3 linked regions of the Homo sapiens genome follow. The protein of the gene in region 3 interacts with the protein of the main gene of each other region in a pairwise test. Each region holds a gene or a part of one and is shown on either strand. Other genes may lie near its edges.

Region 1 (7,028 bases), about 96 Mb from region 3:
ACATCATCACTTAGATCACGAGTCAGCAAACTACCTGTCCGTAAACGAAATCTTGTCTGCCATCTGTTTTTGTAAATAAAGTTTTATTGGAACACAGCCCCACTGATGGGTATATGTATTGTCTCCCCCAGCTTTCACACTACGACTGCAGAGCTAAGTAGCTGTGATTGAGACCCTATGGCCCACAGAGACTAAAATACTTAGCATCTGATCCCTTACTGAAAAGTTTGTAGGCCAGGCGCAGTGGCTCACGCCTGTAATCCCAACACTTTGGGAAGCCGAGGCGGGTGGATCACCTGAGGTCAGGAGTTCGAGACCAGCCCGGTCCACATGGCGAAACTCCTTCTCTACTAAAAATACAAAAATTAGCCGGGTGTGGCAGTGCGTGCCTGTAATCCCAGCCACTAGGGAGGCTGAGGCAGGAGGATCACTTGAATGCAGGAGGCAGAAGTTGCAGTGAGCTGAGATTGCACCATTGCACTCCAGCCTGGGCGACAAGAGTGAGACTCCATCTCAAAAAAAAGAAAAGTTTGTAGATCCTTGGTTGATAGATTTATTTAAATTTTTTAAAGAAACAGGTCCTCACTCCATCGCCCAGGCTGGAGTACAGTGACAGGATTCTAGCTCACTGCAGCCTCCAACTCCTGGGCTCAAGTGATCCTCCCACCTCAGCCTCCAGAGCAGCTGGGACTACAGGTGCATACCACTGTGCCCAGCTTGTAGACCCTTGATTTAGATGATGTATGAACATGAAAAATACAGAATACAAAACTTTTCTATACTGAATTAATAATACAATTTACAGTTAAAGCAAAACTAGGGGAGAGGAGGCCATAAGTTAAGAATTGACCTTTAAAAGAAAAATGACATACAACCCCATTATAGTTCCATTACTGTTACCATAATAGTGTTTGTGTAATAAATTAGGCACATAAGTGATGAGTGGGAGTCTGCTCAGTGGTTGAAACGAATCAATGGAGTCAGACACACCCAGACTCAAAATATGATTCTGCTACTTCCCAGTTGTGCGATCCTGGGCATGTACACAGGATGTTCACGACAGCACAGCATCTACTACTGTTTGCAGTAGCAATGCATGAGGAACAACTTTACTGTCTATTAAGAGGAAAATGAATAAATAAAATGTCGTGTAAGCACATATCTGCCAAAAAGGATACACTGAGATCTACAAAAATAACACTGAATAAAAAAGCAGAATTTAAAAAGCAACGAGGCTGGCACCATGGCTCATGACTGTAATCTCAGCAGTTAGGGAGGCCAAGGTGGGAGGACTGCTTGAGCCCAGGAGTTCCAGACCACATAATGAGACCCCGTTGCTACAAGAAATTAAAAAATAAAAATTAGCTGGGCATAGTGGTGTGCCTGGAGTCCCAGCTACTGAGGAGGCTGAGGTAGAAGGATCACCTGTGCACAGGAGGTTGATAATGCAATGAGTCATCATCACACCACTGCACTCCAGCCTGGGCTACAGGGCAAGACCTTGTCTCAAAATAAACAAATAAATAAGCAAGCAATGATACAATTACATAAAACTTAAAACATATACAAAACAATGCTATATTCTTCATGAGCACAAACATACAAGCCAAGTTATAGAACATGGATTGGAAGGATACACATTAAACATGAGTATAACTCATGAGGGGAGGGGAGAGGAGTAGTGTGCTCAGGGGAAGGAGAAATATAAAAACTCGGATAGAGGCCTGCGATCTTGAGTCATCACAAACGTAAAGACTATGGCTGATCATAATCTAATTTTGCCCACTTGAATGTAAAAGGAAAAACAAACTAAAATAGCCACTGAATGGTGAATAGGTCTTATAACACTGTCATTAAACTCCCAAAAATGTCACCTTTTTTTGTGAGATAATTCACCTTTGAAAACAAAATGTCAAGGAGTGGAATAAAAAGAACTGTGGATACCCCACAGTGTAATGGTGAGCACTCTGGACTCTAAAAAGAACTGTGGTTGTTGTTTTTTCCTTTCTTACTTTGTTGTGTGGTTAAGAATATCTTTGCAATTAAAAATTTTAAATTGTTTCTTCAAATTTCAAAAGTAAACGGTTTAATAGCATAGCCCAGAGCAATATTTTATAAACTACAGGTCACAATCCAGTTTAAAATCAATTCAGTAGCTCATGTCCATCATTAAACTGACGAAGTAGAACACAGTGTAATAATCAAGAGTGCATTATAGGCCAGGTGCAGTGGCTCACGCCTGTAATCCCAGCACTTTGGGAGGCCGAGGTGGGCAGATCACTTGAGGTAGGAGTTCAAGACCAGCCTGGCCAACATGATGAAACCCTGTCTCTACCAAAAATATAAAAAATTAGCTGGGTGTGGTGGCACGTGCCTATAATCCCAGCTACTCGGGAGGCTGAGGCAGGAGAATCACTTGAACCTGGCAGGCGGAGGTTGCAGTGAGCTGAGATCATGCTTCCAGCCTGGGGGACAGAAGGATAGTCCGTCTCAAAAAAAAAAAAAAAAGAGTGCATTACATATTATAAGAGTAAGTTTCATGAAACCATCATTTCTATTACTTAAATGCATTGAGTGTACTAGGCCTTGATGTAAAACCAGCTTCACATTCCTGAGAGTCTCAGGCAAGGGTTGGAAATGCCACTGATCTATGGAGATAAAAAGCTTTCATCAAAAGGTAATGTACTATGATACATAAAGATGGAATGAAAGGTTAAACTTTGGGTGGTATTAGACAGTGTCAAGTGTCATAGGTAATATGACAGAGTCTAGGAAAACTCTGCTAATAGATTAAGGCCTCACTACAATAAATCAGGAACCAGAGTTGAAGAAATGTAGTTTAAGGCCAAGCGCAGTGGGTTGCGCCTGTAATCCCAGCATTTTGGGAAGCTGAGGTGAATGGATTATTTGAGGTCAGGAGTTCAAAACCAGCCTGGCCAACGTGGTGAAACCTTATCTTTACAAAAATACAAAGATTAGCTGGGTGTGGTGGCAGGCGCCTGTAATCCCAGCTACTCAAGAAGCTGAGGCAGGAGAATTGCTTGAATCCAGGAGGCAGAGGTTGCAGTGAGCTGATATTTTGCCACTGCACTCCATCCTGGGCAATAGAGCGAGACTCCCTCTTAATTAAAAAAAAAAAAAAAAAAAAAGACATGTAGCTTAAATTACAAATATAAAAAATAAACATTTTCTTGAAATTTGAAGAAACTGAAATCACAAAATTATTTAGCTATAAGAGATGGATGATTACACTGAAGAAATGAAGAGATCTTAAACATAACAAAAGAGTAATTTTACTAACTCACAATCAAGTAATAAGTTTCTATTAATTCTTGGCCCAGAATTAATATTACACATATGTATATAAACTTATTAACAGCCACGTGACTATTACACTGAATGTCTCTGCTGGATTTTACTGGCGAATATATTAAAAGAAAAGTTGTTTTTGAATTTTTTTTTTTTTTTTGAGACAGAGTCTCTCTGAGTCTCCCAGGCTGGAGCGCAGTGGCGCGTGATCTCGGCTCACCGCAACCTCAGACTCCCTGCTTCAAGGGATTCTCCTGCCTCAGCCTCCCGAGTAGCTGGAATTACAGGCACGTGCCACCACACCCGGCTAATTTTTGTATTTTTAGTAGAGATGGGGTTTCACCGTGTTAGCCAGGATGGTCTTGATCTCCTGACCTCGGGATCCGCCCGCCTTGGCCTCCCAAAGTGCTGGGATTACAGGTGTGAGCCACCGCGAAAAGTTTAAATTTTCCTAGTCCACTTAACATCCAAATTATTCCAACTCCCATCCCTTAGAAAATTTTAAATCAAAAGCTAGAAATGATTAAGCTTAGTGAGGAAGGTATGCTGAAAGTCCAGGAGACAGGCCAAAAGCTAGGCCTCTTGCACCAGTTAGCCAAGTTGTGAAAGCAAAGGAAAAATTCTTGAAGGAAATTAAGACTGCTACTTCAGCGAACATGGGAATAAGAAAGCGAAAGAGCCTTACTGCTGATATGGAGAAAGTCTGAATGGTCTGGATACACCAAGCCAGCCACCACATTCCCCTAAGCCAAAGCCTAGTCCAAAGCAAGGCCCTCACTCACTTTCAATTCTATGAAGGCCGAGAGAGGTAAAGACGATGTAGAAATCTCAAGCTACCTGAGGCTGTCTCATAAGGTTTAAGAAAAGAAGCCTGCTCAGCCGGGTGTGGTGGCTCACGCCTATAATCCCAACACTTCCGGAGGCTGAAGTGGGCAGATCACTTGAAGTCAGGAGTTCAAGACCAGCCTGGCCAACACGGTGAAACCCTATCTCTACTAAAAATACAAAAACCAGCCAGGTGTGGTGGCAGGAGCCTGAAGTCCCAGCTACTTGGGAGGCTGAGGCACAAGAATCCTTTGAACTGGGAAGGCAGAAGCTGCAGTGAGCCAAGATTGCATCACTACACTCCAGCCTGGGTGACAGAGTGAGACTCTGTCTTAAAAAAAAAAAAAAGAAAGAAAGGAAGAAAAAGAAGCCTACTCTATCACATAAAAGTACAAGGTAAGCCAGGCATGGTGGCTCACGCCTGTAATCCCAGAACTTTGGGAGGCCGAGATGGGCAGATCACCTCAGGTCAGGAGTTCAAGACCAGCCTGACCAAAATGGTGAAACCCCATCTCTACTAAAAATACAAAATTAGCCGGGTGTGGTGGCGCATGCCTGTAATCCCAGCTACAGAGGAGGCTGAGGCAGGAGAATCACTTGAAGCCAGGAGATGGAGGTTGCAGTAAGCCGAGATCGCGTCATTGCACTCCAGCCTGGGCAACAAGAGCGAAACTCCATCTCAAAAAAAAGACAAAACAGTACAAGGTAAAACAGCAAGTGCTGATGGAGAAGCTGCAGAAGATCTAGCTAAGAGAATTGCTGAATGTGACTACAATAAACATCAGATTTCCAGTGCAGACGAAACAGCCTTCCATTGGAAAAGGATGCTAACCATCTAGGATTTTCATAGCTAGAGGGAGAAGTCAATACCTGGTCTCAACACTTCAAAGAACAGGCTGACTCTTATTAAGAGCTAATGGAGCTGGTGACTTTAAAATGAAGCCCGTGCTCATTTACCATTTCAAAAATATTAGGGCCCTTAGGCTGGGTACAGTGGCTCCCACCTGTAATTCCAGCACTTTGGGAGGCTGAGACGGGCGGATCACTTGAGGCCAGGAGATGGAGACCAGCCTGAGCAACAGGGCGAAACCCCATCTCTACAAAAAGAGAAAAATTAGCCAGGAGTAGTGGCATGTACCTGTTAATTCCAGCTACTGGGGAAGCTGAGGCTGGAGAATAGGTTGAACCCAGGAGGCAGGTTGCAGTGAGCCGCGATCCGGCCACTGCACTACAGCCTGGGTGACAGAGCAAGACTCCGTCTCAAAAAAGAAAAGAAAAATCTGGGTGCGGTGCCTCCCACCTATAATCCAAGCACTTTCGGAGGCCAAGGCAGGTGGATCACCTGAGGTCAGGAGTTCCAGACCAGCCTGGCCAACATGGTGAAACCCTGTCTCCACTAAAAATAACAAAAGTTAGCCAGGGGCTAATTTTTATATTAATAGTCTCAGCTACTCGGGAGGCTGAGGCATGAGAATCACTTGAACCCAGGAGGTGGAGGTTGCAGTGAGCCAAGATTGTGCCAGTGCATTTCAGCCTGGGTGAGGCAGCAAGACTCTGTCCAAAAAAAACAAAAAAGAAAAAATCTTAAGGGCCTTAAGAATTATGCTAAATCTACTCTGCCTGTGGTCTATATATAAAACAAAAAGCCCAAATGACAGCACACCTATTTACAGCCATAATTCACTTTATGTTTTAAGCCCACTGTTGAGATCGACTGCTCAGACAAAAAATTCAAAATATTACTGCTCATTGACAATGTACCTGGTCACCCAATAGCTCTAATGAAGATGTGCAAGATTAATGTTTTCACGCCTGCTAACAACATCCACTCTGCAGCCCATGGTTCAAGGAGTAAGTCAAATTTCAAGTCTTACTTTTCAAGAAATACATTTTGTAAGGCCATATTTGTCACAGATAATAATTCCTCTGACGGATCTGAGCAAAATAAATTGAAAACCTTCCCCATTAAGAACACTTATGATTCATAGGAGGAGGTCAAAATATCAACATCAACAAGAGTTTGGAAGAAGCTGATTCTAACCCTTATGGATAACTTTAAGGGATTTAAGACTTAACTGGGGAAGGAACTGCAGCTGTGGTAGAAATGGCACGGGAACTAGAATTAGAAGTGGAGCCTGGTATTTTAGAAGGCCAAGGCAGGAGGACCAGTTGAGCCCAGAAGTTTTAGACCAGCCTGGACAACATAGTGAGATCCCGTCTCTTAAAAGAAAAAACTAAACTACAAAATTAGCTGGGCACGGTGGCTCACGCCTATAATCCCAGCACTTTGGGAGGCTGTGGCAGGCAAATGACTTGAGGACAGTAGTTCGAGACCAGCCTGGCCAACAGGGTGAATCTCCGTCTCTACTAAAAATACAAAAATTAGCTAGGTGTGGTAGCACATGTCTGTAATCCCAGCTACTCGGGAGGCTGAGGCATGGGAATCACTTGAACCTGGGAGGTAGAGGTTGCAGCAGTGAACCGAGCTTGCGTCACGGCACTCCAGCGGGTGACAGAGTGAGATTCTGTCTCAAAAAAAAAAAAGCTGGGTTGCAGTGGCACGTGCCTGTAGAGGCTGTGAGGCAGGAGGATCACTTGGGCTGGGGAGGTTGAGGCTGCAATGACCTGGGATCATGCCAAAGCACTGCAGCCTGGGTGACAGAACAAGACCCTGTCAAAAAAAAGAAAAAATAAGTGGTGCCTCAAGATGTAACTGAATTGCTGCAATCTCACAATAAAACTTGAACAGATGAGGACTTGCTTCTTATGGATGAGCAAAGAAAGTAGTTTCTTGAGATGGAATTTACTCCTGAAGAAGCTGTAAATGTAGTTGAAATGACAACAAATGATTTAGAATATTCTGTATACTTAGCTAATAAAGCAGCGGCAGGGTT
Region 2 (7,028 bases), on a different chromosome or scaffold from region 3:
ACCTCCCCTTCCCGGGTTCAAGTGATTCTCCTGCCTCAGCCTCCTGAGTAGCTGGGATTACAGGCATGTGCCTCCACGCCCGGCTAATTTTGTATTTTTTAGTAGAGATGGAGTTTCTCCATGTTGGTCAGGCTGGTCGCAAATTCCCAACCTCAGGTGATCCGCCTGCCTTGGCCTCCCAAAGTGCTGCGATTACAGGCGTGAGCCACTACGCCTGGCCCCCATTTTCTCATTAAGAAAGTACACTCATTATAAATAACTGTAATATGCCAGAATATCATAATCAACCTCAACCAGGAATAGATAAAATAATAGTTTTATCTATTCCTGGTCCCCTTAGTTAATTCTCATCTTTTTCAAGGGTTTAGTCTATTTAGTTTAGATAATAACCAGAAAATAGTTTTATTATTGAAGTTCACTAAATACAAACCAAATAATTTGAGTGGAAATAAGTTGTTCTTCAATATTCTCTCTCTTTTTTTTTTTTTTTTTTTTTTTTTTGAGACAGAGTCTCACTCCAATGTCCAAGCTGGAGTACAGTGGCATGATCTTAGCTCACTGCAACCTCCACCTCCCGGGTTCAACTGACCCTCCCAACTCAGTCTCCCTAGTAGCTGGGACCACAAGCGCATGCCACCGTGCCTGGCTAATTTTCATACTTTTAGTAGAGACAGGGTTTCACCATTCGGCCAGGATGGTCTCGAACTCCTGACCTCAGATGACCCGCCCGCCTCAGCCTCCCAAAGTGATGGGATTACAGGCGTGAGCTACCGTGCCCAGCCAAGTTCTTCAATATTCTTGATGAGATTCTACGGATTTAATCCTGGTTCAACTAGGATAATAATAATGTGCTTTCAGAGAAGATGTTATGCACAAAGCACCTTTAACGATGCAACACAGTATTAAAATGTACCCTTGGCCGTTTTTTTAAGTAACATCCTTTAAAGATTTTAAGTTTGGGGCAAGGAGGGTTATCATAAATTTATAATTTGCAACAATCGCTAATATACTGAATTAAAAGTTGTTTAGGGCTGGGCGCGGTGGCTTACGCCTGTAATCCCAGCACTTTGGGAGGCCGAGGCAGGTGGATCATGAGGTCAGGAGATCGAGACCATCCTGACTAGCACAGTGAAACCCTGTCTCTAGTAAAAATACAAAAAATTAGCCAGGCGTGGTGGCGGGTGCTTGTAGTCCCAGCTACTTAGGAGGCTGAGGCAGGAGAATGGCATGAACCTGGGAGGCGGAGCTTGCAGTGAGCTGAGATCGCGCCACTGCACTCCAGCCTGGGCAACAGAGCAAGACTCCATCTCAAAAAACAAAAAAAAAAAAGTTGTTTAAACTGTGAGTATGGAATAACATATCCCATAATTGATAATAATCCCAATATTCTGGGTAAAAAATCCCAGCCTCTTCTGAGATTCTCAGCTAAATACTCACCACATTCCATAATTAAGTTGGTTTTCATAAACCACATCCCTGGTAACTTAAAACAAAAAAATCATTGCAATGGTCCCTCTGCCATCAAACCTTTCCCCTCATTGCTCTTTTTATCAATAAAATGCAAGTTGACAGACTAAAAATGAGACAAAGCAAAGCACCAAGGGAACCAGAGAGGTTCAGCAAGACCCTGGGTATGAACACTCGCACACATCTCTGGGTCCTCTAAGGTCCATAGCTTTATGATATACAAAGCTGACATCTGCTTATGGATGATCAAAGCCAAACCACAGGCGCAACTACTAAGAGCTCTCTAGACTTCTATAATCTCCCCAAGTACATCTTTTGGAAAGTAGAATGCATTGGACAAGATTTTTACTAAGCCATAAGCATTTATTGCAAAGAGTTCCACTGGTTTGTTCTCCCATATGGTCTCAAACATTTCTGGTTAATACCAGACTATTAACCTTCATGTTCTTTTCACTGATCTTTAAATTGTAATAAATTTGTTGGGTTCTAGTAAGTCCTGGGCCCAAGAGCTAGATAAATGGTGCCTCATTCCCCCTGCTATTGGAGTGAAGTACAAGATCTGCCCAATTATACTTCAAGTAAGTTCAGAGTGGGAGTGAATCCCAGAGAGCAAACTACCTGATGGTCCCTTTAAGTGAACCTAAAATACCAGTTAAATGCTGGGCTCTTAACCCTGAGGCAGAAGTGAAATATTATTAAAGAAAGGAAAGAAAGCGGGCTTTATCAAAATGAGTGTCAGGAAGCTTTGTTACTCAGTGGCACAGTAATAAATAAATAAAGACACAGTTAATAAGTGTGCAAAAATGAATATATAAATACAGTCATGTGCCAAATAACAACATTTCGGTCAACACAGACCACATATACCACGGTGGTCCCATAAAATTTTAACAGGGTTGAAAAAGGCCTACTGCCTAGTGATTTGTGTTACAATTGGCTACGGTATTCACCACAGGTTTGTAGCCTGGGAAGAACAGGCAATACTACATAGTTCAGGTGTGTCATAGTAGGCTACACCATCTAGGTTTGTGTAATTACTGTATACTTATGATGTTCACACAATACAATTGCCTAAGGATGCATTTCTCAGAACATATACTGGTTGTTAAGTAATGCATGACTGTAAACAAAATTGTGCTGCTTAAGATTTGGGGTACAATTAGGCAACTTCAGCAAAGAGCAAGGAAAAAACTCAATAGCTTTATGCACAGCTGACAAAAAAGCTTTAAAAAGTTACCGCTGACGATCTGACTTGTATGTGGCTGTCAGCTCGTCAAACATGGTGCTGTTCATTTCCATAAATGCCTTCAACACATTGTACACCAACGCCACAATAGCCCTGGAAAGCACAGAAAAAAAGGAGTGTGTTAGTTAGTCTTATAAAATGGGATACTGAATGAAGAAAGCAAAAGCACAACTTTTGTCTGAATGATTTCTCGTACTGCACACTGTCTGTATCCTTTTTTAGTTGGAACAACTGAAAATGACCTACAGTTCATTTCCACATCAAGAGATTTCAAGGCAAGATAATTTTCTGAGGGGTGGTAGAACTAGAAAAAAAATCTAACTTTGCCCTTCTAATTTCTTTTTTTTTTTTTTTGCAACGGAGTTTCGCTCTTGTTGCCCAGGCTGGAGTGCAATGGCACCATCTTGGCTCACCGCAACCTCCGCCTCTTGGGTTCAAGCAATTCTCCTGCCTCAGTCTCCTGGGTAGCTGGGATTACAGAAGCGAGCCACCACACCTGGCTAATTTTGTATTTTTAGTAGAGACGAGGTTTCTCCATGTTGGTCAGGCTGGTCTCGAACTCCCAACCTCAGGTGATCTGCCTGCCTCGGCCTCCCAAAGTGCTGGGATTATAGGCGTGAGCCACCACACCTGGCCTGCCCTTCTAATTATTGGCACCCAGAATAGAGCTGCCTGTGGGCATTTGATAATTTCATTTAATAAAAAGGCAAGTATAATAGTAAAGCAATTTCACCCTAAAATAAGGATCTGTGATAGCACTAACCTTAGACATCTGAATTTGCATAGAATTCTATTTTCTAAATAACACATAATTCATCAAAATCAGAAGCTACTTCCCTAGAAACAAATGTTATATATATATGTGTATATATATAAATTATTCTTATCCAAAGAAATGAAATCAAGCCCTCATGTAGGTTGGGTGGTTCAATATGAATTATCTGTCTAGCTCTGATCTGCACCAGTCCTGCTGACCCAAAATATATGCTGATAACTGGCAAGCTGGGATGGTTGCTATTAGCTATGGGACACTATACAGCTAAACAGCCAAAATGGTAGCCCATACTTAACAAGAATTAGCTCTTGGGCAATGTGAGGACAAGGTTATGATGGGCTTGATAGCTTCAGACTAGAGTCTAAATAGCTTTTCCTTTTGCAAAAATATCCGTTGCTTCCGTTTTGCAACAAACATGCTCCTAATACCACTGAAAAATGCATTGGTAAAAATTAGCCATATATTAAATAAACCATGAGTCTGATGTTTCCAAAACATTTACAAGAAAGTACACTTGCTGTGTAGCTTCTGCCTTGTGCCATTAAAAGGAAAATTTAAGTTCTTTTCTGTTAAGGTTCCAGAATGACCTTCCTCCCAAGGGCAGTGATGGGAAAGCACCAAATGTAGTATACTGAGTAGTTACAGACACTTGCTAGAACCGTTCTCTAGGTCCTCAAGAGACTATCTGTATAAAGGGACTTAACTGTTTATCAGCTCCTTATTTTTACAAGTTCTATTAATATAATTAGGCAAATTTGAAAAATTAGAAATGTGATATTTTATAATTACATGCAAAATTTTTAAAGATAAACATATTATGAATATACTGAATTGTATCTCCCAATTTTTAAATACCACATTAAATTTTCCTTCTATTCCACAGAGAAAAATGTAAAGGCATTCAAATTCAGAATGCTTTAACTTTCATAGGGCTGGATGTTAAACTTCCCTTGATGATTTTAAACTCCTTCCTTTCCAAGAGATACATATAGCGACTGAGTTGGCTGTTAAATAGATCACACTAAAATGAAAACCTAGTCAGACCACTTCCCCACTTAACAACCCTTCAGTACTTCCTCATCATCTACTTGGTGAAGGCTCACACGAGTCCCACAGTCTTTTCTAGCCACATCCTCTAGCACCCTCCCCAAAAGACCTTGTGCCTCAGCCCTCCCAAACTCACAGGTCTCAGAAACTGACAGCTGCTTTTTACATCTTTGTGCCTTTTAACATGATGGATGGACCCACTGTCTGAAAGGGCTCTCCCCATGCCATCCACCTGCCAAATTCCTTTCAGATTCAGTCTAAGCATGGCCATGCTGTCAGTATCTACACACCTCTCCTCTCAGCTGCAGTGCCTCCCCAAAAGATCTGCTACCTTCATAGACAGATCAAGAAGCCTGTCTAGTAAACAGATACTTTAACCGGTATTTTGTTAAAGTATCTGTTTATTTTCTCCAGTCAGTGAATCCCCAGAAGGTAAGGATTTTATCTTTTCACATACGTCTTCAGCAACAAGGACAGCATCTGGCACATAATAAGGCTGAAGGGAAAGAAAGAGAGGAAGGGAGGAAGAGAACGGAGGAAAGAAACTGAAAACCTACGGATTCCAATGTTCTTTTGAAATCCTATAAAGGCTGGAAAACATGATGGGAAGGATGACGTTAGAGTTTTCTTCTATCAAACTCATGATGTATTCATTATTCCAATAATAGAGTGCTCTTTCTGCCACCTTTGGGAAAAGAAAAATAAAATGTTAAGAGAGAGAAAAAGACAAAGATAAAACAAAATTATAAATCTTTCCAAACAAAAGTATTTCAAAAGGCTATTTGTAAATCATTCAATTAGAGGTAAAATTAAATATTAATCACATTTTAATATATATATATTTTTTGAGATGGGAGTCTCGCTAGTGGCGCGATCTCGGCTCTCTGCAACCTCCGCCTCTCGGGTTCAAGCGATTCTCCTGCCTCAGCCTCCCGAGTAACTGGGATTACAGGCACATGCCACTATGCCTAGCTAATGTTTGTATTTTTAGTAGAGGCGGGGTTTCACCACATTGGCCAGGATGGTCTCGATCTCCTGACCTCGTGATCCGCCCACCTCAGCCTCCCAAAAGTGTTGGGATTACAGGCGTGAACCACCGTGCCTGGCCCACATTTTAAATGTTTGTGGATTTTTAATCTCTTGGAAAATTCCAAAGTGGGCCAGGCACGGTGGCTCACACCTGTAATCCCAGCACTTTGGGAGGCCAAGGCAGGCAGATCACTTGAGCCCAAGAGTCTGAGACCAGCCTGGGCAACATGGGGAGACCTCGCCTCTACAAAAACACAAAAATTAGCCGGGATTGGTGGCATGTGCCTATAGTCCCACCTACTTGGGAGGCTGAGGTGGGAGGACTGCTTGAGCCTGGGAGGCGGAGGTTGCAGTGAGTGGAGATCATGCCACTGAACTCCAGCTTGGGTGACAGAGCAAGACCGTGTCTTCTCCTCCCACCAAAAAAAAAGTCCAGAGTGGTTCAAGTGGTTCATCGACTCAGGGAAGGAAAAGAAGTTTTCCTGTTAATTTATATTCTTCTCTAATTCTGCCCATGTCATCTGATTCCACACTTTCCTGACATCACTTTAGCACATCTCACTGGTCCCCTTTCTTATGTTTTTCATCACACACACTTAGATCGAACCCAGGGCCCAGCATATGGTTAGCATTCAGTCACAGCTACTGAGGAACACCCACAGTTGCTCATCCCTGTAGAGCGGCCAATATTTACTAAGTACCTCCTATGGGCAGGCACTGTGCCTACACAGCAAGTAGAATGTATCATCCTTACCACCATCCCAGAAGGAGATACCATTGTGCTCATTTTACAGGTGAGGACACAGAGACTCAGGGAGACTGAGTAATGTAGGCAAGGTTACACTGACAATATGGTAAAGACTGGGGCCTCATTTCTAGGGCTTCTTCCAGAGTTTGTTTCTGGTCCCTTCCTGTGCAAGCCAGGAGATGTCTGCTCAGTTTCTGGTCTCAGGGACACTGGCTGCACCTACCCTCTCTGCTCTCTTAGATCCCTTTTCTCTGCCCACCATGCTATCAACTGGCTCTAATTTGGTCTGCTGGGCCTGATTGGCTCATCTTGGATTTCATGAATTCAAAAGAACATCTCAAAAACAAAACCTAAAATCTCTAAAAAGGGTAGTTACAGGGGAAAAGGGAAAAAGGGGTGGCTTCCTTCATTTATACAGATTAAGAAGCCCTGTTTTAGAAGAGAACAAAATGGTATAAGATGTATCTACCGAAAGACACTGAGAAAACAGAATTTTTCCATTTACATTATTCAGCTTGGTTCAAAAAACAAAACAAAACCCTGAGACTCATTAGGCACCAGACCCTGAGAGTACAAAGAAAACAATCATTACTGCATGTTCACTATATGCCAGGCACTGTGCTAAGTGTCCCACATATATAATATCTCATTTCCTCACAACCAACAGAGTTGGTACCATTACTTTTCTATTTTGTGGATGAAGAATCTGAGACTCA
Region 3 (6,754 bases):
AATGTCACACCTGGGAGCAGGCACACCCTGCAAGAGGCTATTCCGCTGCCACCCAAGCAATGAATTATGAGACAAAGCAAAAATTACACTGATGTTACAGAGACATCACTGATCCCTGCAATGAGTAATAATCTTCTTTTGACTTTGAACTGGTAGGCAAATGGAAGAAATCTTAACAGCTGACAACATCCTAGCTGGTAATTAAAAAAATAATTTTTAGTACTCCAGTTTGAAATTTGGTCTTTCACGGAAATTTTCCCTCATTTGGGAGGTCACCAAAATTGTGCTAGCTTTTTAAATTTTTATTATTTTTTTTAAAGCAGCACAGGACAAACTTCTACCATCTTGAAAAACTTCTAAGCTGTCCCTTATCCTAAATCTTGCACCTACAAGTCTTAGAAAGTGAATCTGAACTAAATGATTCAAAGATGAAACATAATGATATCATACTTAATATAAACATCTATTTCAACGTTTACGCCAGACTGAACACAATAAAAGTACTTATGAAAATTATAAGTCTGCACTCTTTAATTCTTAAGTTTACTTACACTTATGAAATAACTCTTGACATTTATTTTGTTGGCATGTGCTAATTAATAAACACATATTCCCAACACAGCAAAGGAAAAATCCCAGTCCAGAGCATTTTGTCTTTGTGAAGCCAATTAATTAAGACACCGCCTCTAGTGCCTTGAGATTCTGGGCTGCAGAAATGGTTGCTGGGGAACACATCTCCCTCGGCAGAGCCAGAAACCACTGACTGACTGACTAACAAACATTTCTTCAAATAAGATCTAGTGTGAAAAGGGCTTCCTCTCATTTCTTCTGGGCTCCATTCCATGAAGAATATAAGTTAGTTAGTTAGTTAGTGGAAATTACAAAGGAAAACACAACATCTCATACACAATTTATTTTATATAACTTACTTGGTGTTTTCTTTTATTGAATCATACAAATTCAAATGGGGATTCCTGAATAAATCTTTAGTTAATTTACCTTTGGCAGAAACAACAGATTCCAAAACAATTAGTAGCATCTCATTTATTTGTAGCTTAAAAAAAAATTCTGTAGCGTATTTTTCCAAAAACATAGTCTTAAACAAATGTGCTTTAAAAGCTAACTGGTAATGATCTGATTAATATCATAGCTTATTTAAGAGAGCTATTAAAGGACAGACTAGACATGTATTTTTAAAAAAACACAATTTTTGGTCATGTGAATGATTCATGTTCAGATTTCAAAAATAGGAAACATCCTAAAGTGCATCATTTTATTTATAATCTCACTCCTTGAAATTATAGCAATCTGCAATGTAAACAGTAGAGCAAAGAATTCCAAACTATATTTTTATGTACATTTAAACCTGTAGGATTATGTACCGTCTTTGTGTATGGATTAAAACCAGGGCACTTCCAACACATAGCTCAAGCTTCCATACGATTAAGAGCAAACTTAAAGGCATTCTTTTTCCCCATCCTTAACATTCAGCTGACAGAAGAGAGCTGCTACCTCACTTCAGCAATGGAAAATGTTGCTGTAAATCCCATTGGACCAGCCAGTTTCTCACGACCCTTTAAAACTGAAAACGGGTCAGTATAGTTTTACATTCTTTTTCTTTTCCTTAAAACTGTGCCCTTTCAGAAGGCAACTTTCAAAACATACGAGGGTGCCTCTGCTGTGTGTTCATACTGTAACACGTCGTCTAAGGCAGAGCTCCTGAAGCACCTTCTCTGGTCAGCCGTGGCAGGCGAGCAGATGCCTGGGCTCGGCCTCGCAAAGCACAAAGGTGGACACAGAACCCACTGTCCTTGGCGCAGGAGTTAAAAAAGTAACAGCAAATCATGAGGTGACATCAGGCACACTGAAGAGATGGAGGATTTGGTGTCTTACATTTCCTGGTCCCTCCAAAATGTCTAATATAGACAGTTTTGTGACAAAGTCTTTGAAAAAAATTATAATTGGCCACACAGCATGACTTCTTTTTTTTCTTTTTATACATGATCTCGAAAATAGTGTGATTTAGATTCTGCCTTGGGCTGAGCTCTGAGGGCTACATTTACCTGTCAGTTTGGGGATTTTAGTGCAGATTTTTTTTAAAAAAATTAAACTCTGGTAAGTACTCAGGAGGCTGAGAACACAGGCCCCTTCTCTCCCCGATCCTCTGTATGCAGGCTGACTTAAGCCCCTTTATGTTTGGCTAGTGCCACAACAAAACAGCCCCAAACAGATTGCCATGAGCATGCTAGCCTGGCTTGGTGTTTGACGATAAAATCAGACTGGTAAGTGCAGTCAGTGTTCAGGAAAGAATCTCCAGGCTCTTCTCCCATGACCTGGTTTTAAAATCAGCATTCATACAGCTGCTTACCATCTCTCTGTCCTCTGCAGATGACCCGGTCCTAGGCAGGGACCAAAATTCCTTGTCAGCTGAGGAAGTCCTGAAGAAACATCCTGAAGATGATGACTGCACTGCCATCGTGGGCAGATGCAGCTTCCATCTACCTGAGGGCTGAAGGGGAAAACCTTTCACACACGTGAGGAAGGCGCAGCTCTGTGGAAAGGTCACTAGAATGGCAGCGGCAGCAAATAGGGCTCCAATGCACGTTTGCAGTTAACTGGGTCCAAGGAGAGCATGGCCCTCCACAGCAAGTTTGCTCTATAGAATAAAGTCCTGAGCTTGTTTTTATCACAGTTAGACAGAGAATGGTCTCTTGTTTCTCAGTTATCCAGGGAAGAACAGTGTATATTCTCTGTAGATGAGTGTTGTCTAATGTAGTGATTAATCTCTGCTAGTGTTAGGAAAGCTCCACTACTGTGTGTGTGTGTGCGTGCATGCGCGTGCGCATGTGCACATACTGCAGTCTTGACTTTCCAATTACAAAATGCCTAAGTCAGGTCACATTGTCTTCTTCCAGCCAGTTTCTAAGGCAGGCAATGGAAACAGGAGCCGATGCCAAATGGTCTAGAGGCAGAAGGGCTGCATGCTTTGCAGGGCCAGCCCCAAGGCTGCCTTCCAGAGCTGCACTTTCTCTGGGGACAGTAAACTCTCACCGCAGCTGCCAGCCCCCTGTGCTTGGCCATGCCCCTCACATGGACTTGGAATCAGTGTCTCTCTTGCTGATGAGCACCTCCAGGAGCCTCAGTTTCGCCTTTATGTGCTTATATTCACTGTATTCTTCAGCCATAGGAGTGCGGTCTTCCTTCTGGACATTTCTAATGCAAATAAAGGAAAAAGGGGTCTGAGGATCATTTTCTGTCTTTGCTAGATACTATTCATCGGGCAAATTATCATTGTTTAGAAACTTTGCAGTTTATCAACTTGTAGAATCAGTGTTGCCGAGTGGCCCTTGGTCTCAAGACTGGGGCTGGATTTAGACAAGTAATGAAAATGTTTCACCCAGAAGGCAACATGCAACTGAGTTTTTATATAGTTAATCTGGCATCCTGTATGATAAGAAGGCTAAGAAATGCAGAAATTCTCTCTGCTAAGTATGAATTCACATTGAGCTCTCATACACCAAAATCTTTTATTCATACTTAATGTTTTCTCATTCTTATATATTTCATCTCGTGAAATTTTAAATTTTTAATTAGCAACTGGTCCACAACTTAGTTTTTTTTTTTTTTTTTTTTTCCAAAAACAGATAGTTAATACTCCTACTTATCATAAAACTGTGTTAGAATTCAGCAGCTGGATTACATAATACTATTATAATAAGCCTTTATTATTGAGTAACTTTACATACATAATATTTATATGCACAAGTATTTGAGAGCTTATAGGTCAAGCCCTGTGCTAAGTACTTTGTACCCATGATCTGATAGAACCCTTATAACACCTTGATGAGATGCAGCCATTTTCTACACACTACACATGATGAAACCAGCACAGGAAATCAGATAACTTGCCTGCTCTTGGCCACCACGCGGTGCGCTGCTGCTTTGTGTTTTATGGGAAATTGCACATGGCAAACATTCAACCATAGGCTTCCTGCCTTTATTATTAAAGGGCAAATATGGGTAAGGAGGATAGCATGGGGCTTGATTTGTTCAATGACCTAAAAATAAACTGATCTTATTCATACCCTGCCTTGTTCTAGGAAAGGATTCTAGTGGCTTCTCAGCAGAGGGCAGGGCAAGGAACAGGTGCTCAGGAATTGGAGCATCTGGCACGCAGGCCCCCACTGCACTCTGAGGGGCTTCACTCTCCTCAGACACGAAGTCATGGAACCAGAGCTTATCTCCTAAGTCCCTCATAGTTCTAAACTTTTTTGACAATTAAGTTAACGTCCTCCATTGACATTTTCTTAAAACCTGGGTGGTTTGCGTAATTCTACATGTATAAGATATCTGTGCATAATGTGACTTAGAATAATATAAAAAAGGATAAGCCAAAAAATAGGCTTAGATGAAAGACTGGAAAGATACACGTCAAAACATTAATTCTGACTTGTCTTTGGTTATTATTGTTTTGGGAATTACTACTTAAATTTGCTTACCTATATTTTCTAAATACTGTGCAATGGGTGGGAAATGAAAAGCAAGTGTTTAGGTATAAAAATATATGAGACATATCCAAATCAGAGATCCTAAAAGTAAATTCATACAATAATTGTTAAACTAAACTGAAATACAATATATTTTAAATGACAAAGTTAATTTTTATGGTGCTTTCATTTCCCCAAACTTTCAAGAAGTATAAAAGAGGACTCAAGAGAAACAATACTTACATAGCTTCAGTAATCTGGGTTAAATCCAATTTAAAATGATAAAACCTAACTCCAATGTAAGAGATGCAAATCTGTTCCTGGTTCTTTCCTCAGGCTCCTACTGTGACTTTCGGTAAGATTTTTGTGTGCTGTTGCTTGTAAACATGAAAGACTAAATTGTGCCTTAAAATTCACTGGCGAGAGGCAGCCCATCAACCAGGTAGATTTACTGCTTTTCTTTTCTTTGTTTTTTTTGAGACGAAGTCTTGCTCTGTAGCCCAGGCTGCAGTGCAGTGGCGTGATCTCGGCTCACTGCAACCTTGGCCTCCCGGGTTCAAGTGATTCTCTTGCCTCAGCCTCGAGTAGCTGGGATTACAGGCCTGTGCTACTGCACCCGGCTAATTTTTTGTATTTTTAGTAGAGATGGGGTTTCACCATGTTGGTCAGGCTGGTCTTGAACTCCTTACCTCATGTAATCCACCCTCCTTGACCTCCCAAAGTGCTAGGATTACAGGCGTGAGCCACCACGCCTGGCCGACTTACTGATTTTCATACATATTTTTCATTTAAACTTGGCAATTATCACCTTCATTTTTGAAATGAGCTTGAAAATCAGTAATACTTAGATCTCTCTTTCCCTTGTTTCTCTAGCTCCTTTTATTTAGAAATGAAGTCTCACTCTATTGCCCAGAATAGAGTGCAGTAGCAGACCACAGCTCCCTGCAGCCTCAAACTCCTGGGTTCAAGCAATCCTCCTGCCTTAGCCTCCCAAGTAGCTAGAGCTACAGGTGTGCCACTACGGCCGCTTGGCTAACCTCTAGCTTCTTAAGAAAAAAGCGTTGGTGCCACCACCAGCGGGAAACGCAGCTTCCTGCTGCTCATTGTAGATAAGAATTTGATGGGACAGGTTCATTTCATAAATGTCAGCTGAATCTGCATTAGTCTTGGGCATTACCCAAAGAGCATTTCTTCTGGGAGGTCCACACAAATCCCATCATCTCACAGTCAACCTCTAAGTGTCCCTGGGCACAAACCCAAGGACCAGGTTACAGGGAGGATGCAGAAGAGTCCCCCCTTTGAAGGCATTCCACAGATCTGACAGAAAAACAAGAGGGATGGGTGTGTGTGGTGCGGCGGGGGGGAAGGGAGGGTGGGGGAAGACAGGCACTACCTTCCATTCTGTCTGAAAAAGTTGTCTTCAAAATCCCGAAGTTTCTTTCGAATCCTTTTCTTTTCTTCTCTCATTTCCTGGAGGTGTTCCAGGAGTTCAGGTCTAAGAGAGAGGAAGCATTGCAAGGAAATTAAGTTAAATTTGAGTTGTCATAAATGTGATGAATGTGTAACTCAACAGGAGCTGTGCAGAAAGGGGAGGCAAGTAAATGCAGAAACTGCTGAGAGCATTGAGGGGGCGCGGAAATGCATGTTTTCCATTTCCTGAAAGCCAAACATGCTGGCAACAGATCCAGCTTCTGGGGGTTCCTGCTACTTGGGAATTCTTAGCCCTTGTGAAATCCCATGGCACTTTGTCATATTTTTCTTTGAAAGAAAGAGATGACATCTGTGCTCAGCGTGTGTTAAGTGATGGGCTGTGATGTACAGAACCACACGATGCCCTTTAGAGAGAGAACTTCTGGTTGTTTAAACAAGACTCAAAAGTTCCCTCAAATAACATGGGCTGAAGCATATAAAAAAAGAAATTTTTTAAAAAATCACCGTTTTATCCAGATACACCCCAGGTAGTCACTTGTATTTTATCAGCTAATTTATTTAGATACAAAGGCTAAGATAATATTTAAGTGAGCTATTTTTACCAAAACATTTCACCACCACCACCAAAATGACATACATTGAGGCAGCATGGAGATTTGAAAGCCCTGTGTCCTGGCTGCATTTTGATGGTATTTTATCATCCATTGGGGAAATAAATCCATCAGCGTCATCTTCGAATTGGTCCAGAAAGCATCGTGCACTGAAATCGGTTTTCAGAGTGACCATGAAGTCTGGCTTCACATTGCTATCGTCTTCTGACCCCTCCTCTTCTTCCT

Evidence for each region.
Region 1: the proteins of FAM13A (region 3) and CFAP97 interact in a two-hybrid assay, tested with the Homo sapiens proteins (one study listed by IntAct).
Region 2: the proteins of FAM13A (region 3) and PPP2R5E interact in a two-hybrid assay, tested with the Homo sapiens proteins (one study listed by IntAct).

Annotation. Positions count from the first base shown.
Region 1 is NC_000004.12:185,193,975-185,201,002, forward strand, and holds part of CFAP97 (cilia- and flagella-associated protein 97), read right to left. Parts: intron 1-7,028.
Region 2 is NC_000014.9:63,379,352-63,386,379, forward strand, and holds part of PPP2R5E (serine/threonine-protein phosphatase 2A 56 kDa regulatory subunit epsilon isoform), read right to left. Parts: intron 5,221-7,028; coding exon 5,093-5,220; intron 2,807-5,092; coding exon 2,705-2,806; intron 1-2,704. UniProt on the Homo sapiens protein: The B regulatory subunit might modulate substrate selectivity and catalytic activity, and might also direct the localization of the catalytic enzyme to a particular subcellular compartment.
Region 3 is NC_000004.12:88,725,447-88,732,200, forward strand, and holds the end of FAM13A (protein FAM13A), read right to left. Parts: intron 6,753-6,754; coding exon 6,556-6,752; intron 5,983-6,555; coding exon 5,881-5,982; intron 4,658-5,880; exon of another isoform or gene 3,214-4,657; coding exon 3,087-3,213; 3' UTR 514-3,086; downstream 1-513.